2 separate regions of the Homo sapiens genome follow, and region 2 is linked to region 1. The links come from fine-mapping of genetic effects on gene expression. Tissue or cell type: whole blood. Region 1 holds a variant in brackets; the other region holds the start of a gene. All regions are shown on one strand. Distances are from middle to middle.

Region 1 (2,691 bases):
TCCATCTTTCACAGTCTTTTCAAAGCATTCTATCTAAAATGCCATCTGATCACTTTCGCTCTTGAGGTTTGCAGTTTTCAGTGGTTCCCAGGTGTGTACACAGAATAGCAACATTCATGTTAACATGGCAAAGAAGGTCGTGTTAATGTGAATTGGGCCCTTACCTAGCTCAAATCTCTTTGCCTCATTCATTATCATGCTATCCTGTCATAGCAGACTTTTTGCCAGGATATTTCATACATTTTTTGGCTTCACTTTCACTGCTCACTTTTCCTGCTAAGGTCTTGTCCCCCGCCTGCTTGTATCATGAGAAATCATTTATCTTTATAAGTCATTTTATGGAATAGATCTTATAGTACTTCCAAATCAACTCAGATAGAAATTACCATTTTCCTCTCTTTGTTTCCTGGTCAGCCTATGCAGGCTTTTCACGCCTTAAAGTTTTTTGTTAGCGTCTTGAAAAAAAAAATTGAAAATAACAAAACAATTATTCTGCACTATGATACAAATGAATATTAAATGGATTTCATATATTTAGGAAGAACGCATAAATAATAAATGTTGGTTTTGTTTAGAATAATAATAAAAATTATATACTGAAATTCTAAAAGTTATTATGCTCCTTTGTTGATGACACTCATGCTTTCTCATAGTCAAATTAAGCAATATGGATGTAAATAGTTAATAAATTCCTATGACCAATTATAATGAGTTAACATTATAATCAAATCTGTTAAAATTAATATTTTTTTCCTATATTTATAATGTTTCTATGTGTGTTAAATTAGGTAAATACATTGTTTTAAATTAAAGTTAAACAATGTGATATTTACATACTCTATGCAAATAAGTTAGCTAAAAGAGAAATAATTATACACATGAATTGTGTCAATTTAACAACTTTTCCTCTGCATTTGCTACCATGAAACACAGAGTAAATTATTTGCTACAATATTCTAAAATCTTTCCAAAATTACTTTTCTTATATATTAAATAAACAATAATAATGAGTAATATATACATACCGCGTCATGGCCAAGACGATTGGTACACCAGAAAAACCAGAAAATATAAGTGTAGAAAAGATAAAAGCAATGAACAAAGGTAACTTATAGCACTTTGCATCACATTTCCCGGGTCTGGCATCAATAAAATCACCTTCTGCATCTGCAGTTATTAATCCTTCTTTAATGCAAGAACAATTGTAGTACATCTGTGAGTATTGAAGACAGGAAACAATCTTTCAGAAAAATAGTCATAAACAAAAGTTCTTATCATAAAATAAAAATTAAATCAATAACTGCAAGGAGACTCATTAGTTTTATTTCAAAATGTCTTTATATTAAGCCTGCTATGTATTATTTAGAAATGAAACATTAATGATAAATCCAAGGTATTTTACATGGCAAAAAAT[CTG/C]TGTGTGTGTGTGTGTGTGTGTAATTATAATTACTTAGGAAAAGCTCTGTTAATTTAAGAAATTTTCCTCAGAATATTTATATTCAAATTCATAAGAAATTGTTAAATATATAAATTGAGGGAAATTAAAAATAATGTAACAAAAAATGGAATTTTAGCTGAGATTTAAAATATGGATAGTTACCCAATTGTGAAAGGCTTTGAAACCATACTAAAAAGACTTTATTTTGTATGTAATAATGACAGGGCTGCTATCCATTTGGGACAACAGACACAATGCCTAGAATCTGTAACATATTCAGAACCACATAAAATATTTTAATTTTAAAGCATTTTAAAATCAAAGAAAAAAGTGTATAATAATAAATTATATAAAATGAATATATAATGATGAATCCAGCTTGGATTGTATTTTTTCACACCAATGTGGTGTAGATAAAATAATTTCTTTATCATTATTAATTTTTTAGTGAAGAAAAGAGAGCACGAAGGCAAAAGTGTCTAGAGTCAATGAGATTCATACTGCAGTCCTGAATGGAAAGCCAATGAGAATTTGGAGTTGTGGTTGTAGGGTGGATAATTTAAGGCAGATGAATTGGTGACATTTTCTAAGGAGAATTAAACAGAGTTTAAAGATGCAGAGACCAGTTCGCAATTTATTAATTTATTGGAAATATTCTAAACTAAAAAATAAGAAGAAAAGAACAATACAATAAATTTAGCAGAAATATTGAATTAGATTTTACTAGTGAAAAAATAAGAGAAATTAAACATAACTTGAATCTGGGTTATTCAGAAAATTATAATTCAGACAAATTTATGTCAGTTTGATAGGTGAAGTTGCTGAGAGGTTAATAAATATGTTAAATAATATAAATACCCAAATATCCAAATATCAATTCCTTCATTCCACCAAATATTTTTTTGAGTGCCTATATGCCAATCATCAATCTAGGTTTTGGGAAAACACAGTAAACAATAATATAGAAACCACCATTCCATGTAGAAAACTTTCTATTTGGGGAGACAGGACATTTTAAAAAAAAGGAACTTGAGTATTTAATGATAAGTGCTATGGAGAAAATAATAAAACAAGGAAAAGTACAGGGAATATTGGGGGGGTTATAGGACAATACTTAACATGATCAGAGAATGTTTTGATGATGAAGTGATATTTGAGCTGAGATCTGAAAAAGGTAAGTGAGTGGACCACATGGTTATCTAAAAGAATGTTTCAAGTAAAAAAAAAGGAACAGTAATTGAAAAGCCTTGTGG
Region 2 (2,691 bases), 100 kb before region 1:
TGACTTAGTTTTCTATTAACTTAAAAAATGAGCTGTTTCCAACCCTCTAAAATCTATATTTCTAAGGTTGTATTTCTTCCAATTAATCCTTGACTGATTATACAGAAAATATTCTCGGACTATGACTCAAGTGACCAAAAAATATCTACATTCCAATTCAGCTAAGCTTCGGCATGTCCTTCTTGACTCCTCTCCACCTCTTCTCCACCCTTCCTCAAAGTCAACTCAGGTTAACTTCCTATTTTCCTTCAACCTCTGTATTGAACACACCAGAAGCAGCTTTAACCTTCCCTGTGCCTTCTTTCAAGGGAGCTGTTCTCCCTCCAGGATATCACTCCTCCAAACTGAGCTTAGATTGCAAGCCCCTGAGGGTATAAATCTGAACTGAATCTGTAACTCCCAAGAGAACCTAAAAGAGATCCTAGAACAAAACAGATGCTGGATAACTAATGTAACACAATGAAGATTAAGGCTCAACAACGTCGGGAGCCTTTGCTAATTTACTCACTGGGCTCCTCTGGTGACCACATACTCTCAAACTAAATACACTCACAAAACATGAATGTCTGTATCTAATTTATACGATAGATTTTTCATAGCTTTCTTCCTTGTAAGGCATCCCACTCCCACCTGCAAACGTATTACTCCTTCCCCTGAGGCAATGAAACAAATGTAAAAGTAAAATACCTTTAAAGAGTGCCTAGGTAAATTTTTGTCTTTATAATGTAAAATAAACTCCCCAGGGTATACCTTTCCCAAAGGAAGGTTCTTGTAATCTTCCCTGTAAGTCTTGAATCCGCTAAACTGAGGTAAAACACAAAAGAGAAAAAGGCTTGTATTGCAAGTTTGAACTGTAGTGATAAAGGAGAAGCTGAACTTTGGAAGGCTGGCTGGGGGCCGGTAGGTTGACCTTGGTGAGAGCGCAAGCAAGTTCCAAACCCGGGGCCACCTTGCAGGGCGCGTCCACCGTCCCACGGACCCCGCGCACCTGCCCTCTCCCCCGGCTGGCTCGCCGTGCCCACCTCGCTCTCCACTGGCCCGAGCCTCAAGCGGGCGCTGGACTTTACCTTGCGTGACGGCCAAGAGGCAGTAGTGAAGCAGAAAGCCTCCAGGTGTGTTGCAGCGCTGGAGACATTGAGGATGGAAGTTCCTCCAGCCGTAAGACCCCTCCTCAAACTCGGACAGCGACAGTGACCGGAGCTTCTCTTCGGAGACATTGGGAGGGGCTGAAGGCAGAGATGGCTCTGGTGACTTCTGGGGCTCCTGGGGCTTCTGAAGCTCCTGTGGCTGAGAATTCTCTCTTTGGGGGTCAGAGGACAAGGCAGAGACTTCGATTTGGGAGGGCGACGCAGACAAGCGGCGCAGGATGTCTGGGCTGGAGGGGACAAAAGCCAAGTTCTCAATACCTTTGGCGCTCTTCATGTCTGGATGGGTTCTCCCGACTCCGGTGCTTCAGAGCAGCAGAGCCAGGTCCCTCTCTGGCTCCTCCCACAGGCAGGTGACAGCGCCCCCGTGCGGGAAGCTTCCCGCCTCCTGGCCCTCCAGCCTCCAGCGCACTCTCCGCCACCGCCTGAACCTTCCTACTCCAGCTCGCAGCTGTCTGGAGCGCAGAGCGCTGAGCGGGGGCGTTAGCGCCCCAGCCTGTGGCTTTGGCGCTCAGCTGTGCCTCACCCGTCGCCTCAAGGACCAACCGGAAGGCGCGGCGTGGGCGTGCCACCCGGCGGCGGCCGAGTAGAGGGGGCGAGAGTTCTCACCCCACAGCCTTCGACCGGAGTCCGCCTCCGCCCAAGCCCCTGCGGTTCTGACCTGAGCCTTCAGCCCGCAGCGCGCCTCCCTTGAGCCCAAGCACTGGGAACACACAGAGACTGTGGGAGTCTCTGGCCATAAGCTCCCCTTGGGTGCTGACATGAAACCTGTAAACAGTTGCATCAGGAGATTGTTCAGGAAACTATCTTGCGTTTTCTTCCTTTGCTGCTTACCAAAGCAGTCTAGGCTTGGACTCCAAGAATCAAGACGTCAGAGGTATACTTTGGTTCATGAGCATCTTGATAAGACTCTTGCCTGTCATCCTGTTACTGGTAGAAGGTGTCCAGGTTCTTGGCATCTTGAAGAAAGAATTGAAGAAAACGCACAAACAAAGCAAGGAAGGAATGAAGGGGTTTATTGAAAATGAAAGTACACTCCACAGTGTGGGAACGGGCGAGCATAGGGGCTCAAAGGCCCGGTTACAGAATTTTGGGGAGTTTAAATACCCCCTAGAGGATTCCATTGGTTACTTTGGGTATGCCCTATGTAAAGGGAGAAGATGAAGTAAAGTTACAAAGTCATTTATGGCCTACGCCCTATGGAGAGGATATTTCCTGTTACAGCTGAAGTGTGAATAGGCCTTATGTTTCCTGCCTCCAGACCCTATTTTCCTGCCTCAGTCCTCCTTAGAAAAAGAAATCCACCCCACCCCACCCCCATCACCACCAGGATGAACATCACAGCATAACCACTGCTTTGCTTTTCCTTCTCCGAAACTGAAGGACCAGAAATTGTCTCTCTGCTGTATATTGCATATGTAAGATATACAGTGATGACAATCATGTAAATAATTTCTACCGGGCCAGGCGCGGTGGCTCACGCCTGTAATCCTAGCACTTTGGGAGGCTGAGGCGGGTGGATTACCTGAGGTCAGGAGTTCAAGAT

What was found. PIP is the estimated chance that this variant, and not a neighbour inherited with it, causes the effect.
Region 2: SLCO4C1 starts here. The variant in region 1 is fine-mapped to the expression of SLCO4C1 in whole blood (INTERVAL, PIP 0.95).

What each region holds. Positions count from the first base shown.
Region 1 is chr5:102,398,530-102,401,220 of GRCh38, forward strand. It overlaps SLCO6A1 (solute carrier organic anion transporter family member 6A1), which reads right to left. Exons shown (of 14, transcript NM_173488.5): 10 at 1,026-1,213. Among named protein-coding and RNA genes, the nearest start is that of SLCO6A1, 99 kb to the right of the region's middle. The variant CTG/C (reference allele first, on the strand shown) is at 1,415.
Region 2 is chr5:102,294,841-102,297,531 of GRCh38, forward strand. SLCO4C1 (solute carrier organic anion transporter family member 4C1) reads right to left here and starts at 1,444. Exons shown (of 13, transcript NM_180991.5): 1 at 1,068-1,444. The coding sequence starts at 1,422. RefSeq lists an enhancer at 1,210-1,409.